2 linked regions of the Homo sapiens genome follow. The protein of the gene in region 1 purifies or fractionates together with the protein of each later gene. This does not show direct contact. Each region holds a gene or a part of one and is shown in the gene's direction. Other genes may lie near its edges.

Region 1 (9,073 bases):
ATCTGATAACCCATACACATGCACTACCTCTCCTCAGTCAAAAAGTTTCTGGGTATCATTGCCTCCCATTGAACATCAGTCCCCAGAGTGATATAGGTTAGTGGCCATTTTAGAGGAAAGCTAGAATTCTATAAATGAATGTAGCTGAACTCAAGAGTAAAACTAGTATTGAACTTTTTGAATTGGCCTGTTGCTCTGCAGTAGGCGTGTTCTGGAAAGGGCTTAGCATTTGGGCAAACAGTGGCATGGTTCAAATGCATTATATGGATTTGCTATTTATAGATGTCCTAATGGAAATTATTTGGCAGAGCAAAAGCCACATATGTAATGCCCATAATTATCCACCAATTTATCTGGCTTATGGTTTTGTACAAATTAGTTTTTCTCAAAGTGGTCTATACACCGGATGTGTGTTTCTACATTCCTAAATTTGATGTCATGGCCTCAGTAAGCTTAATTAGTGGAGATGAACTATGGCAGCCCATGAACCCTAGGAAATTGAATGCAATATTGTATGCCTACATGTGAATTTTTCTTGGCATAGCATTCATGATATTCTCAAAGTGATCCATGCCCCTTAAAAAAGGCTAAACTGCTAGTAGGGAGGAACGTGTGGTAAGGTAAGGGAGTAGGATGGCATGACACTGGAGGAGAGGAAGGCTCAATTCATTCTATTCTAGGAAGGCCACATGTTAAAGCTTACTGGCGTTTACAAGGATCTTTGACCCTGAGCATGAGAGCTTGGTGAGGAAAATGTGAACAAGACAGTAATATGCATTCCATCTTACTCTTCCATGAAGTGGTCTTGTTTGTAAAATATCTTGTGGGACAAACATGGTTCAGGCCCCCTTGGCATTAAACTCTCTCAAGGAAGACTTAAAGTTACTTTTTTTAAAGAGTTAGGTTTTTTTGTCTTATTATAAGAGTAACAAATACTCTTTGTAGATATTTGAACAGTCCAGACATAAATGATGAAAAGAAAAATAAATTAGCTCTTGGTTTACCATCCAGAAGCATCTACTAATAAAACTTTGATCTATATCTCATGTCTTTTTAAATCTGTTTATATATTTACATAGTTGAGCGAGAACAATAGTGAGCATCTACTGAATGTTTACTGTAAGTCAGATACAACCTTAATCTTCACAATAGAAGATTCTGTTAATATTTCTATTTTATGGATGGGGAAGTGGAAGCCAAGAAAGGTTAGATCATTTTCACTGTGAAAATTTATTATGGAAAATTTTAATATACACAAAAGTAGAGAAAACAGTATAAAGAACTGTCATGGACCTAATCATGTGGCTTCACAATTAATTCATGGACAGTATTGTTTTATGTATTACCACCACCACCACCACCCTACACATACTGGATCATTTTAAAGCAAATTCCAGACATGAAATAACTTCACCCGTAAATATGCTATCAGGTTACATCTCTCAAGGATAAGGGTTATTTTCATTTTATTTTCATAAACATGACTATAATCCCAATTAGCACATATTTCAGGTGTTTTAAGCTAAGGGCCACTATATTCTTTAGAAGCCCACAAATAGTCTTTGGAAAATCTGTGAACAACCCGAACCAGCATTCAAAGTTGTCCATGTACATGCATATATGCATCATCTAGGGAAAGAATTTATAGCTTATCTCAGGTTCACAAAGGGTCTATAGCTTCAAAGGTTATCTTAATGTCCTTTTTCTCTTTCTTGAGGAAATTGAGGCCCAAAAAGGGGCAGTGACTTGCCTGAGATCACACAGATAGTTACTGGCAATACCCTTACCTACAAACCCCGTCTTGGACTTTGGTATCCCAGTACAGTTTCCTCAGAGCAAATTTCTGTAAGCACAAGTCATAATATAGTTTAATGTAATTGTGGGTTTTCTTCTTTATGAAATTAGTTGAGTTGAATAAGTTTGAAAGCCACTGATGTATCATACCCTTCTATCTTCCCACTAACTATTTCAGAAAGATGACAGCCTAATTTATTTTTTAAGGGCTTGACAGAGACCATTGAATATAAACAAAAATTTCATGTCCCATTATCCCTTATTTCAATGAATATCTTTTCTCCTACTGACTTATTGACAACATAGAAAGCTTGCTAGTGTCTAATGTGAAGGTTTGCTATAAATCTCTTTGTCATCACTTATATGACACAAGGTCACATTTTGATGATATTGAGGAATCACACCTCAATATCATCAATATCAAAGGTGAGATTGACACACCTCTGTGAACATGCCTAATACCTCAAAGCCTCAGCTTCCTCATGGGGATGCTGATGGGGCTGCTACTACCCAATTGGTGTGCTTTTTGTAAGGCCTAAGAATATGTAATACACCTAATATGTTTGTTATAAGCATACACAAACATAAACCATTATTTATTTTCTCTATTTGTTTCAAATCAGATGACTGCTACCACCAGCCAACCCCAAATGTCATCATTGGAATAATTTCAATAACCACAACTGACATTACCATAATGTAACTGAGTTTACCTCTTTGGGCTTTTAGTTATGCTAATTGATTACAATGAGACTTCACTTCAGCTATTTTGCATCCCCAAGAAGATAAGACATAGACTCACCAGCATGTGATTTAGATTTTGAAATGGTGCTATAAGCCACCCAGTGCCCTAGTGGAGCCACGGACCAAAGTGACCCTCATTCCTGGAGGATTATTTCTGAACCTGGACCACAATCCAACCTATGAAAAAGAAATCTCTAACCATGAAGACGTGCCCTGAATCTCCCAGAAAGATTTCTGTGTCCATCTATCAGCAATTATTTATTGAGTGCCTACTTTGTGCCCAGCATATCTCATACATATATGTGAAGCTGTTATTAATAAGGAATTTAACTTCTATTCAGGGAAGAAGATGAAAGAAAACGAAACCTTGGCTTTGCATTGAAATCACCAAGGGAACCCAGGCCATAGGCTAGAACCACTAAGTTGAAATCTCTGAGAGAGATCTCAAGCATCAGTATTTTCTATACAGATGCCCACTGAAAACAGAATTAGAATAGTGTATACATAAACCCAAGTTTTGCTTTTTCTTCCACCTAATGTTATACGTAGTCTTCCTATACTTTTAAGTAACCAACCACACAAATATTGAAGATAGCCTAATATTCCATTTCATTGTTCTACCACATCAATTTCAGCAGTCCCTTCTGATTTCATATTTAGGTTCTTTCCCAGATTTCATACATTTAAAAAATATTAAAATATACATTCCAATGCATAAATATTTGTATATGTTTCTGATCAGTTTCATGACAAATAGAATTAACTAGGTCTGAGTATAAACACTTCTAAGGTATTTTATTCTCATAACCACAGTGACCTCAGAAAAAGTTGTATTATAGTCTTTTTTTTAGTAAACTTTTCATCAAAGTACAACATCATCCCCAAAACTGCACATATTAAAAGTTTATAGCTTGATGAATTTTCAAAAAGATAAACTCTTGACCTTTGTGTGACCACCTCATAAATCACAAAAAGAATATTACTGACACCCCAGAATCTCTCTCATACCCCTTTCTAATCACTAACCTCCTAAAGGTAAATAGTATCCTCACTCTAACAACATAAATTATTTGCTCATTTCTGAACTTTTGATAAATTGAATCATACAATATTTTATGCCTGACTTCTTTCACTCAACATTATGTTGAAATTATCTGTGCCATTGTAGGTAGCAATAGTTTTCATTTTTATTACCATATAACATTCCATTGTATGAATGGAACACAGTTTATTTACCTACTCTACTGATGATGGACATTTGGATTGTTTCTTGTTTTGGGCTGCTATAAGCCATACTGCTATGAACATTCCTTATATATATTCTTTGTGGCACATATGAAGCTCTTCTATTGGGTATATACCTAGAAGTGGCATTTCTGGCTTATAGGGTATACACATGTTCAGCTTTAACATACTTTTCAAAATGGCTGTACCACTTCATATTCCTGCCAGCAATGTATAAGACTTCAATCCACTCTTTGTGCTACCATCGTTTCATATTATCTTTCTCATTTTGGCCATCTAATAAGCAATTAATGGTATTGCAATGTGGTTTTAACTTGTATTTCCCCAATGACTAATAAGCTTAGCAGTTTTTACATGTTTATGGCATTTGATGTCTTCTTATGTAGTTGTTCAAGTCTTTTGCCATTTTTCTATTGGGTTATTTGCTTCTTATTAATTTGTAGGGGTTCTTCTCATATTCTGGATATGAGAACGTTGAGAGAAAAAATGTATTGCAGATATTCTCTTCTACACTGAAAAAAAAAAGGCTTACCTTTTTTCTTCTTCACTGAAATTCCTAATTTAATGTAGTCTAATTCTTACATTTTTCTCTTCTATGGTTGTGCTTTTTGTGTACTGCTTATGAAATCTTTGCCTATTCCAAAGTCATTTAGATATTCTATTATTATTTTCTAGAATTGTTATTATTTGCCTTTCACAGGTGGATTTACAATTCATTTGGAATTGCTTTTTTGGTATGGTGTGAGGTAAGGGTCAAGATTCATTTTGACTATGCCACTTTTGCTATCCATAAATAATTTGACTGTATATGTGCAAGTTTCTATTCTGCCCATTGGCCTCTTTGTCTAACCTTCTACCAGTACAGCACTGTCTTAAATGTAATGATTTTATTTAAAAGGTCTTGATATCTGGTAGCGTAAGCCCTGGAGCTTTGCTCTTCTTTTTCAAAACAGATTTGAGTTATTTTTGATTCCTTGCATTTCCACGTGCACTTTGGAATCACCTGATCAATTTGCACAAAAACACCTGCTGGGATTCTGAATGGAACTGCATTGAATCTATAAATCCATGTGGAGAGAATGGGCATGTTCTCACTCCAGAGTATTTGCTTTTGTCAAGTCCCCTAAGACATCATTGAGAGGAACCAAATTTTGTTACTTTTTCAGTTTGGGGTTTACCAAACCAACTTTTGCTGTCTAAATTCAAGCCTCAAATCTATGTGAGGGCAGATCCATGAATAAGAATTCCAAGATAAATATTTTATATTTACTTATTTATTTTTGTCCACCTTAAGACTAAACTAAGATTTCTTTATCATCAACCTGAGTTGGTAAGAATTTTGTTTCTAGTTCATTTTTTTCCTTCTTTTTTAGATTCTACTCCACGTAGACATCAAAACCAACCTAGGTTTTTCTTGACTGTGGTAAAATATGCGTAATGTAAAGTTTACCATTTTAACCATTTTTAAGTGTACAGTTCTACGGCATTAAGTACATTCACACTGTTGTGCAGCCATAACCACCACTCATCTCCAGAACATCTTTATCATCTCCAACTGTAACTCTGTACCCATTCAACATTAATTACTAATTCCCCATCCCCTTCTTTCCCCAGTCTCTGGCAACTACCATTTTCCTTTTTATCTATATGAATTTGACTATTCCGGGTTTACCATATAAGAGAAATCATATAATATTTGTCCTTTTGTGATTGAATTATTTCAGTTAGCATAATGTCTTCACAGCTCATCTATGTTGTGGCATGTATCAGAATTCCCTTCTTTTTTAAGCTGAATAATATCCCATTGTATATATATACTACATTTTGTTTATCCATTAATGCATCAGTGAATACTTGGGCTGTTTCTACCTTTTAGCTACTCTGAATAATGCTGCTATGAAGTGGGTGTGCAAATACTTGTTGAAGTCCCCTCTTTCATTTCTTATGGGTATATAACCAGAAGTGCAATTGCTGGATCATCTGGTGATTCTATGTTTAATTTTTTGAGAAATTGCCATCCTATTTTCCACAGTGGTCGCACAGTTTTGGATTCTGACGAGTAATGCACAAGGATTCCAGTTTCTCTGCATCCTCACCAATACTTGTTATTTTCTGGGTTTTGTTGATCCTGATGGGTACAAGATGGTATCTCATGTTTAGTGATGTAGATCATGTTTTTATGTGCTTATAGGTTATTTGTATATCTTCTTTGGAGAAATATCTAGTCAAGGCCTTCGTCCATTTTAAAATTAGATTGTTTGGTTTTTGTTGTTGGATTGTAGTATTATAGCTTTCTAACCAGCAAATTTGAATGATGCAGAAGTATTGAATTTTATTATCATTTTACTTACATTTATTCATCGAAAGGGTTATTTTTCATGCCTTTTTATTACTTGTCTTTTTTGGTATGTGAATTATCTGTTCATGTCCTTGTCCATTTTAATACTGTTTTTTCATTTCCTATTGGTTTTAAAAAATTATTTATAAATATTAAATTCAACCTTTCAGATACATTGCTAACATTTTCCCAGATTGAAATTTGTCTTTTTTCAATTCTATTACATTTTCAATGTAGAAGTTTCCTTTTTTATGGTTTTAAATGTCTCAAATTTATTTAGCTATGTTTTCTTCTTTTCAATTATATTTAGAAAGGACTTCCCAACCCTGAGAACAGAAAAATAAAATAACCTGTATCATTTCTCTAGATCCTCAATATGTACTTTTTGCTTTTATCATTTTCATCCATCTGGAATTTATATCATTATGTAGTATGAAGAAATCTATTTTTTCCCAAATGATGAATCAGTATTTCTAAAACCATTTGTTGAATAATTTATTCTTTTTTCACTGATTTGAAATTTTACGTTTTTTATGTAATAAATGGTAATATGTATTAGATTCTCTTTTAGAGTTATCTGTCATATTCTAATGTTTTGTAACTTTATTTTTGCACTTATTATTGTACTGTACTCTTGCATGACTATTATGCTTCAATTTTTGTAGCTTAATAATAGAGTTTGATAATTAATAATACAAGTACCCTCTTGGAAGTTTTATATTTATCTGCACTCAACTTTTCGTTTTCTACCAAATTATAAAAACAATATTTTGAAAGCAATTTCATGAAACTCCTAATATTATTTCAGTGAAATCTTTACAATTATGAGATTTCTTATCCAAAAACATAGTATATCTGTAGTTATTGAAACGCCTGTCTTTTATGCCTCTCATAAATGCTTGAAATTGTCCTCAAATATTTCCTGCCAAAATTCTTTGTTAGCTATTTTCCAACTGTCTTGGTCCATTCAGGCTGCTAAAACAAAATGTCATAAACTGGGTTTATAAACAACAGAAATGTATCTGTCACAGTTGTAGAAGCTGGAAAATCCAAGATCAAGGCATCAGCAGAGGGCCTGTTTCCTGGTTTATAGATGGAATCCTGTAGCTGTGTTGTCTCATGGTGGAAGGGGCAAGGTAGTGCTCTGAGGCCTCTTTATAAGGGCACTAATCCGAATCATGAAGGCTCTGCCCTCATGTCCTAATCACCTCCCAAAGCCCTCGCCTTTTAATACCGTCATACTGGTGGATTAATTTTCAACAAATGAATTTCAGGGGAACACAAACATTAAGAACATAGCACACAGTATTTTATACTCTGACTTACTATTATGAATTACCATTTTTATATTTTTTAACTGGTGATAGCTGGCACATAAGAAATTCATTTTTATATTAATTTTATAATCTAAAATCATTTATATTCCATTTCTTATCCATTAGTAAAGAAATACAATGTTGCTTACTAGTTCAGAGCATGGGCACAGACACAGCCATGTTCAAATCCCATTGTGCCAGTTTAGGATGCCACTTAACAAGCTTTCCTGTCCCTCACTTCCCAGAGATTCACTGTGCTTTCCATAAAGTGAGCATAATAATGTCCTCTGCAGCATTGCCATTCAAGTTAATTAGTGTATGTAAAGTGCTTAACACAGAGCCTGGCATATAGCAAGCAAATTCAGATTATCATAATATGTGAAATAATAATTTTGCCTCTGTAACTATAATTCTCTTTCATTTGGGGGGGAAGGGAGTGCAGTGGGTAGGGACAGGGGTTTATTGCTGGAGAACTTCCAAAAGTATGGTAAATATTAGAGAGATACCAGGCTGGCACATGACTTAACTTTAAATGCCACTAGTGTTTTACTATACATGTAGTATTGTACAGTATTGGTGCTGACAGGTGGCCTTAGCTCTCCTGTAAACCACTAGCCACTCTAGAAGCCACCAAAAGTACTTATACAGCCTGAGAAAAATCATGTGGTGCACTGCAAATTCAACTTAAAGACAAATCCATTTCCAACTAAGTCATTCCTTAAGATCCCCTTCTACACAAATTCCAGACATCCCACTCATGTTCACAATTAAACTAAGACAGTCTTTCTCATTTTAAAGATAGGTCGTGTTCCTAGCTTATGAAGAATTTCCATCAGGAATAGATGTGAAATTGTTTCAGATGACTTTTTGGCAAGTATGGAAGTAATCATGTGATTTTTCTTTTCTTTTTTTTTTTTTTTTTTTTTGTCCTTTGGTCTCTTTATCTGATGGATTATATTAATAGATATCCTAATATTAAACTCTTATTACAGTCCTGGAACAAGTCCTGCTTGGCCATGGGGATTTTCTTTTAATAAACTCCCGGGTTTTGATTGCCAATGCTTTATTATTTTTACATCCACATACATAAGGGAGATTGTTCGATAACTGTCACTTTTGTGTTCTTGGTCAGATTTTATTTTTAAGGCTATGCCAAGTTTCAGAAAATGAATTGGGAACATGTCCATGAATGTTTTTATTTTGTTTTTGTATTTTTATGTATGGAACATTTTATGGAACCCACAAATAATACTCTCTTTGAATGTTTAAAAAAATGCCAATAATATCTAAACCTGTCACCTATCTTAAAACAAAATTTGAAAATTTTTTTCCATTATTAAATTCTATTCCTTTTTTCCTAAATTGGCTTGAGTCAGATTTGTTAACTTGTATTTTACCAGAAAATTATCCATTTTACTTAAATCTTCATAAGATCTCCAGATGGGTTATAGGAGGACAGCCCTGGGAACTTCCTTCAGTCTCGTCCCATCTTCCCTCTCTCTGGCAGGATTCCCATGAATTCCATCATGTTCATACCCTCTTTTATACTTCTCTATTTCTGTGTAACACTGATTCCTTAGATCTGGATTTGAAATCAGAAGCATTAAGCACAAGTGCTCACATCTCCACCTTACCA
Region 2 (9,073 bases), on another chromosome or scaffold:
CAGGTGGGGACGGTAAGTGGTGCAGCTACTCTGGGAATCAGCCTGGCAGGTTTTTAGGAAGTTAAACCTGCCCTGCATTCCTGAGCTTTTATTAGACAAATGAAAACTATTTTCACACAAAAACCCATATTTAATGTTCATAGCAACTTTATTTGTAATTACCAGAAACTGAAATAACTCAAATGGTTAAACTTGCACACTGATACCCCGGGGTGCCACTCCGCAGCGATCCTCTCTGCCACGTGGGTGCCCCGGGGTGCCACTCTGCATGATCCACTCTGCCACGTGGGTGCCCCGGGGTGCCACTCCGCAGCGATCCTCTCTGCCACGTGGGTGCCCCGGGGTGCCACTCTGCGTGATCCACTCTGCCACGTGGGTGCCCCGGGGTGCCACTCCGCAGCGATCCTCTCTGCCACGTGGGTGCCCCGGGGTGCCACTCCGCAGCGATCCACTCTGCCACGTGGGTGCCCCGGGGTGCCACTCCGCAGCGATCCTCTCTGCCACGTGGGTGCCCCGGGGTGCCACACTGCGTGATCCACTCTGCCACGTGGGTGCCCCGGGGTGCCACTCCGCAGCGATCCACTCTGCCACGTGGGTGGATCTCAAGGGCATTATGCTGAATAGGAAAAGCCAGTCTCAAAAGTTGTGTACTTGGCCGGTTGCGGTGGCTCATGCCTGTAATCCCAGCACTTTGGGAGGCCGAGGCAGGTGGATCACAAGGTCAGGAGTTCAAGATCAGCCTGGCCAACATGGTGAGGCAGTCTCCACTAAAAATACAAAAAAATAGCGGGGCGTGGTGGCAGGTACCTGTAATCCCAGCTACTCGGGAGGCTGAGGCAGCAGAATTGCTTGAACCCAGGAGGTGGAGGTTGCGGTGAGCAGAGATCGTGCCACTGCACTCCAGCCTGGGCGACAGAGCAAGACTCCATCTCAAAAAAAAAAAAATTGTTAATGGAACATTATAACCCAGTGTTCAGACCTAGCTGTTTCTCACATCTTTACCCATCGATCTGTCAAAGACCTTGTGATCATACTGATACTTCCAATTTCAATGCGACGTCCGCGGGTTTATTCTTTTTTTTTTAGGTGGAGTCTCACTCTGTTGTCCAGGCTGGAGACTCACTGCAACCTCTGCCTGCCCAGTTCAAGCGATTCTCCCACCTAGCCTGCTGAGTAGCTGGGATGACAGGTGCATGCCACCATGCCTGGCTAATTTTTGTGTTTTTAGTAGACACCTGGTTTCATCATGTTGGCCAGGCTGGTCTCAAACACCTGACCTCAAATGATCCATGCACCTTGGCCTCCCAAAGTGCTGGGATTACCAGCATGAGCCACCGTGTCCGGCTCCCTGGCTTTATTCTAATGCAAGAGTCAGTAAACTGTGGTCCAAACTGGCCCCCACCTATTTTCCTTAGTAAAGTTTTATTGGAATACAACCATACCCTTTTGTTTATGTATATCTGTGGCTGTTCTTTTTTTTTTTTTTTTTGGAGACGGGGTCTTGCTCTGTTGCCCAGGTTGGAGTGCAGTGGCACAAACAGGGCTCACTGCATCCTCAAACTCTTAGGCTTAATTTATCCTCCTTCCTCAGCCCCCCAAGTAGTTGGAACCACAGGTGCACGTCACCACACTCAGCTAATTTTTTTTTTTTGAGACGGAGTCTCGCTCTGTCGCCCAGGCTGGAGTGCAGTGCCGCCATCTCTGCTCACTGCAAGTTCTGCCCCCTGGGTTCACACCATTCTCCTGCCTCAGCCTCCTGAGTAGCTGGGACTACAGGCGCCCGCCACCATGGCCGGCTAATTTTTTAGTATTTTTAGTAGAGACAGGGTTTCACCGTGTTTGCCAGGATAGTCTCAATCTCCTGACCTCATGATCCACCTGCCTCGGCCTCCCAAAGTGCTGGGATTACAGGCATGAGTCACCGCGCCCAGCCATCAGATAATTTTTAAAGTTTTTGTAGAAAGGGTGTCGCTGTGTTACCCAGGCTGGTCTTGAACTCCTGGGCTCAAGTGATCTTCCCGCCTCGGCCTCCCCAAGCGCTGGGGTGACAGGTGTGAGCCGCCACACGCGGCCTGTGGCTGTTCTGAGCACTCACGTGGCCTTTGGCTCATAGAGTCTGAGATGCTTACTCTCTCGCCCTTTACAGGAATCGTTTGCTGAAACCCTGTTCTCACTCCCACTTTCCTTTCTGTCATTGAGAGTCCTGGCTCTCATCAGCCACCGTGTATTCCAATTATTTGCTTTGCCCTAGAGTCCACAGAAAATAGCTTTAGGTGTGTTAACCTATACCATTGTGAAAACATCTACTGCCTAGAGCCTGTTCACACGGTAATGGTGCACAGTCCTTTTTGTCTTTCTCCTTAGAGCACCTAGTCACTCACTGTTTTCCAAAGTTACGTAGGTTAGCTTCCCCTGTGTTACTCACTTGTAATACAGTTAGGTGCATTTCTTCTGGCTAGTATTCCATGTGGGTGTCTCCCCCATCTTTTTGTTTATTTACTTATTTCTTTTTTTTTTGTTTTTTTTGTTGTTGTTGTTTTATTGAGGTGGAGTCTCGCTCTGTTGCCCAGGCTGGAGTGTAGTGGTGCGATCTCGGCTCACTGTGACCTCTGCCTCCTGGGTTCCAGCGAGTCTCCTGCCTCAGGTTCCCGAGTAGCTGGGATTACAGGTGCCCGCCACTGCGCCTGTCTAATTTTTGTATTTTTTTTTTAGTAGAGATGGGGTTTCACCATCTTGGCCAGGCTGGTCTCGAACTGCTGACCTCGTGATCCACCCACCTCGGTCTCCCAAAGTGCTGCGATTACAGGCGTGAGCCACCGCACCCGGCTTTACTTATTTGAGTATGTAAATCACGAACATGTTTTTAAAAGTCAGAACCCTGTAGAAACTTAAATTCAGATGTATTACTCCCCCCCGCCATCTTTTTTTTTGTTGTTGTTGTTGAGACAGGGTCTGATTCTGTCACCCAGGCTGGAGTGCAGGGTTGCCATCTCAGCTCGTGGTGGCATCCACCTCCCAGGCTCAAGTGATCCTCCTGCCTCAGCCCCCTGAGTAGCTGGGGCTGTAGGTGTGCACTACTATGCTCGGGTAATTTTTTTTTTTTGAAACAAGGTCTTGCTCTTGTCCCCTAGGCTGGAGTGCAGTGGCGTGATTTCGGCTCACTGCAACCTCCACCTACTGGGTTCAAGCAATTCTCTTGCCTCAGCCTCCCGAGTAGCTGGGGTTACAGGCATGTACCACCACGCCCGGCTAATTTTTGTATTTTTAGTAGAGACAGGGTTTCACCATGTTGGCCAGGCTGGTCTCGAACTCCCGACCTCAGGTGATCTGCCTGCCTCCCAAAGAATACAACGGGCTGGGCATGGTGGCTTATGCCTGTAATCCCAGCACTTTGGGAGGTTGGGAGTTCAAGACCAGCCTGACCAACATGGAGAAACCCCGTCTCTACTAAAAGTACAAAATTAGCTGGGCGTGGTGGTGCACGCCTGTAATCCCAGCTACTCGGGAGGCTTGAGGCAGGAGAACCGCTTGAACCCAGGAGGCAGAGGTTGCAGTGAGCTGAGATCGCACCACTGCACTCCAGCCTGCCTGGTGACAGAGCGAGACTCCGTCTCAAAAAGAAAAAAGGCTCACGCCTGTAATCCAAACACTTTGGGAGGCCAAGGCAGGTGGATCACCTGAGGTCGGGAGTGCAAGACCAACCTGGCCAACATGGTGAAACCCCGTCTCTCCTAAAAATACAAAAATTAGCTAGGTGTGATTCCAGGCGCCTGTAGTCCCAGCTACTTGGGAGGCTGAGGCTGGAGAATCACTTGAACTCAGGAGGTAGAGGTTGCAGTGAGCTGCGATAGCACCACTGCACTCCAGCCTGTGCGACAGAGGGAGACACCATCTCGAAAAAAAAAAGAAAAATTCTTTTTTTTTTTTTGAGCTGGAGTTTCGCTCTTGTTGTCTAAGCTGGAGTGCAGGGGTGTGATCTCGGCTAATTGCAGCCTCCGCCTCCTGGGTTCAAGCGATTCTCCAGCCTCAGCCTCCCAAGTAGCTGGGATTACAGGCATCCGCCACCACACCCGGCTAATTTTTTGTATTTTCAGTAGAGACGTGGTTTCACCATGTTGGCCGGGCTGGTCTCGAACTCCTGACCTCAGATGATCCGCCCGCCTCAGCCTCCCAAAATGCTGGGATTACAGGCGTGAGCCACCGCGTCCAGCCAAGAAAAAAAGTTTTTAATGAAAGAAACAGAAACTGATGCCATTATATAATGAACCCTAGTACCCATCACCCAGCTTCAGCAGGTGTTAGTATTTTGTGACTCTTTGATTTTTTTGTCTTGGGCCTAGGTGAAATGACAATGGATGCTCTGTTGGCTCGATTGAAACTTCTGAATCCAGATGACCTTAGAGAAGAAATCGTCAAAGCCGGATTGAAATGTGGACCCATTACATCAACTACAAGGTTCATTTTTGAGAAAAAATTGGCTCAGGCTTTACTGGAGCAAGGAGGAAGGCTGTCTTCTTTCTACCACCATGAGGCAGGTGTCACAGCTCTCAGCCAGGACCCACAAAGGATTTTGAAGCCAGCTGAAGGGAACCCAACTGATCAGGCTGGTTTTTCTGAAGACAGAGATTTTGGTTACAGTGTGGGCCTGAATCCTCCAGAGGAGGAAGCTGTGACATCCAAGACCTGCTCGGTGCCCCCTAGTGACACCGACACCTACAGAGCTGGAGCGACTGCGTCTAAGGAGCCGCCCCTGTACTATGGGGTGTGTCCAGTGTATGAGGACGTCCCAGCGAGAAATGGTAATGGGACCGTGTGTAGGATTTCCTCACACAGATAGCACATACGCGGAGGGGCGGGATGACGTCTGAAAATGGAAAACTACAGATTAAGAAGGAAAAAATCCAATCCCCTCCATCTCATCACCCCAGTTAACCATTGTTAACATTTTTATGTAGAACTTTTCTGAAATATTTGTGAATTTAACATGAGAACTGTTAAAATTTGTGAGGTAAATTGGATTCTATGAGATATGCTGGACTGAGATATTAATATTAACTGGCTGCTGCTGTTGGTTAGGAACTTTGTTGATTAGTCATCTCCGCCTTTTTAAAATGCAGTGTAACCTGCACATCTTTTATGTTAATGAATGCAAATGGCCAATGAGTGTATAAATACTTTTCAGCATCAAAGATTTGTGGTTTTATTTTGTTTTTATTTATTTATTTATTTTTTGAGACAAAGTCTCACTCTGTTGCCCAGGCCAGAGTGCAGTGGCGTGATCTCAGCTCACTGCAACCTCTCCCCTCCCAGTTTAAGCGATTCTCCTGCCTCAGCCTCCTGAGTAGCTGGGATTACAGGCGCCTGCCACCGCGCCTGGCTAATTTTTTGTATTTTTAGTAGAGACGGGGTTTCACCATCTTGGCCAGGCTGGTCTTGAACTCCTGACCTCATGATCCACCTGCCTTGGCCTCCCAAAGTGCTGAGATTACAGGCTTGAGCCACCGCGCCTGGCCATTTTATTTTTTTAATTTATTCATTCATCTGAAACAGGGTGTTACTCTGCCACCTAGGCTGCATTGCAGTGGTGCAGTCACAGCTCACTGCAGCCTCAACCTTTCTGGCTCAGGTGATCCTCCCACCTCAGCCGCTTGAGTAGCTGGGACCACAGGCATACGCCACCACGCACAGCTAATTTTTATGGTTTTTTTTTGTTTTGTTTTGTTTTGTTTTTTTGAGACAGAGTCTCGCACTGTCACCTGGGCTGGAGTGCAGTGGTGCGATCTCAGCTCACTGTAACCTCAGCCTCCTGAGTAGCTGGGAACTACAGGCGCCCGCCACCATACCCAGCTAATTTTTTATTTTTTGTATTTTTAGTAGAGACAAGGTTTCGCGATTTTGGCCAAGCTGGTCTCGAACCCCTGACGTCGTGATCTGCCCACCTCGGCCTCCCAAAGTTCTGGGATTACAGGTGTGAGCCATCACGCCCAGCCAATTTTTGTATTTTTTATAGAGGCGGGGTTTCGCCACGTTGCCCACGCTTCTCTCGAACTGCCCTCAAGCGATCCACCCACCTTGGTCTCCCAAAGTGCTAAGATTACAGGCACACACCAGCACGCCTAGCTAATTGGTTGTTTTTGGTGGTTTTTTTTTTTGAGACTGGGGTCTCTCTCTCACCCAGGTTGGGGTGTAGTGATGCAATCTCAACAACTCACTGCAATGTCTGCCTACCAGGCTCAAGGAGTCCTCCCACCTCAGCCTCCGGAGTAGCTTGGGATCGCTGGGATCACGGGCACGTGCCAGTACGCGCCAGTTTTTTTGTATTCTTGGTAGAGACAATGTTTCCCCATGTTGCCCAGGCTGGTCTCCCAACTCCTGGGCTCAAGTGATCTGCCAGGCTCAGCCTCCCGAAGTGCTGGGATTACAGGCGTGAGCCACCTCGCCTGGCCACACCTAGGTAATTAAATTTTTTTTTTTTTTTTTAAGAGACTGGGTCTCGCTTTATTGCTTAGTCTGGTCTTGAACTCCTGGCTTCAAGCAGTCCTCCCACCTGAGCCTCCCAAAGTGCTGAGATTACAGGTGTGAGCCACTGTGCCCAGCCCAAGAATTGTAATTTTAAAGAAGATTTAGCATTGGAAAAAAGAAATGAGAACTCAGTATTAATTGGGATGCCAGAAATTGCACACTGTTATGAGTATTGTTATTACTGTGATACCATTTGTGGTGACGCCTATGAGTACATAATTGGTTAAACACTATGAATAGAATGGAATATTGTTCTGTAAGATCTTTTTAAAGAATACGTAGGGGCCGGGCGCGGTGGCTCACGCCTGTAATCCCAGCACTTTGGGAGGCCGAGGCAGGCAGATCACGAGGTCAGGAGATCGAGACCATCCTGGCTAACACGGTGAAGCCCCGTCTTTACTAAAAATACAGAAAATTAGCGGGGTGTGGTGGTGGGCACCTGTAGTCCCAGCTACTTAGGAGGCTGAGGTTGCAGTGAGCTGAGATTGTGCCACTGCATTCCAGCCTGAGCGACAGAGCTAGATTCCATCTCAAAAAAAAGAAAGTAACACTGGGAAATGATCATGGTGCAGTTTTTATTTTTATTATTTATTTATTTATTTACTTATTATTTGAGACAGAGTCCCGGTCTGTCGCCAGGCCGGAGTGCAGTGGTGCGATCTTGGCTCACTCCAACCTCTGCCTTTTGGGTTCCAGTGATTTTCCTGCTGCAGCCTCCCGAGTAGCTAGTACTACAGGGGTGTGCCACCACGCCCGGCTAATTTTATATTTTTAGTAGAGACAGGGTTTCTCCACGTTGGTCAGGCTGGTCTCAAACTCTCAACGTCAGGTGATCCACCTGCCTCAGCCTCCCAAAGTGCTGGGATTACAGGCGTGAGCCACCGTGCCCGAACTATGGCTATTTTTATCCAGTAGTGGACAGTAACCATTCGTCTGTTACATTGTTCATAAATTTTTGTCTCCTGGCCAGTAGTGTATATCTTATGTATTTACGATAGTCTCATACAAAACTTAATTGTGATAGTTCCACTACAGAGCTTTAATATTTTTATATAATCAGGATTATCTTGTTTTGAATGGTTTCTTGGCATGTTTAAAAAGGCATTCCCAGCCGGGTACAGTGGCTCATGCCTGTAATCCCAGCACTTTGGGAGGCTGAGGTGGGCAGGTCACCTAAGGTCAGGAGTTCAAGACTAGCCTGGCCAACATGGTGAAACCCCGTCTCTACTAAAAATACAACAATTAGCCAGGCATGGTGGCCGGTGCCTATAATCCCAGCTACACGGGAGGCTGAGACGGGAGAATCGCTTGGACCTGGGAGATGATGGTCGCAGTGAGCCAAGATCACACCACTGCACTCCAGCCTCGGCAGCTGAGTGAGACTCCATGTCAAAAAAAAACAGCCATTCCCGGCTGGGCGCCGTGGCTGACACCTGTAATCCCAGCACTCTGGGAGGCCGAGGCGGACAGATCACCTGAGGTCAGGAGTTTGAGACCAGCCTGGCCAACATGATGAAACCCCGTCTCTACTAAAAATACAAAAAATTAGGCATGGTGGCGGATGCCCATAATCCCAGCTACTCGGGAGGCTGAGGCGGGAGAATCGCTTGAACCTGGGAGGCAGAGGTTGCAAGAGCCAAGATCGTGCCACTGCACTTGAGCTTGAGCGACAGAGCGAGACTCCGTCTCCAAAAAAAAAAATAAAGTAAAAAATAAAAAGGCGTTCCCTGTTCAAAATTGTGTTTAAAATTCTCTTATGTTCTTGGCTGACATAATTATAGTTTTTTTTTTTAATTTGCCTTTTAATAATTTTTATTTAGATCTTTATATGAAATTTAGTTTTTAGGATAGAATCTTGGCATATAGAATTACATATATGAACATAATATATATCATGTTACATGCATATATGCACACTGTCGAGCTTGTTAATTGTTCTATTTTGGCTAGCTTAGGCCCTTTTTCTTCAGGATTAAAGATCTGAACTAAGCCAGGCGACTGGGTAGCAGATGTGGAAGCTGATGGTTAGGCCCAGGGCATGGCCAGGTGACAGCTCTCCAGTCACTCTTCTCTGATTTTCATTTGTTACTTTTCTTACCCAGAAAGGATCTATGTTTATGAAAATAAAAAGGAAGCATTGCAAGCTGTCAAGATGATCAAAGGGTCCCGATTTAAAGCTTTTTCTACCAGAGAAGACGCTGAGAAATTTGCTAGAGGAATTTGTGATTATTTCCCTTCTCCAAGCAAAACGTCCTTACCACTGTCTCCTGTGAAAACAGCTCCACTCTTTAGCAATGACAGGTTGAAAGGTAAATCATGCAGCCGTTCACATCTTGATGTTCCTGTCACATTGATCCCACCCTGTTTTGTGCCTTCTTTCCTCTGATGTGGTAACTTGTTTTCTCCATGAGGGTAGAGTCGATGGGGTCTCAGTGGACCAGGAGGCCATGCTGGCTCTGATGCTCGTGTAATTAGCATCTTGACTCTGGAGAAGCTGAAAAGAACGCTGTGGCCGCTTCCATCTGTCCCCGTGTCTGTTGGATTTTTTTCT

What was found.
Region 2: the proteins of STAC (region 1) and ANKLE2 purify together in Homo sapiens (affinity purification with mass spectrometry; 3 studies listed by BioGRID and IntAct, with this or other methods). This does not show direct contact.

The regions. Positions count from the first base shown.
Region 1 is NC_000003.12:36,382,110-36,391,182, forward strand, and holds part of STAC (SH3 and cysteine-rich domain-containing protein), read left to right. Parts: intron 1-9,073. UniProt on the Homo sapiens protein: Promotes expression of the ion channel CACNA1H at the cell membrane, and thereby contributes to the regulation of channel activity.
Region 2 is NC_000012.12:132,750,401-132,759,473, reverse strand, and holds part of ANKLE2 (ankyrin repeat and LEM domain-containing protein 2), read left to right. Parts: intron 1-4,340; coding exon 4,341-4,799; intron 4,800-8,624; coding exon 8,625-8,831; intron 8,832-9,073. UniProt on the Homo sapiens protein: Involved in mitotic nuclear envelope reassembly by promoting dephosphorylation of BAF/BANF1 during mitotic exit.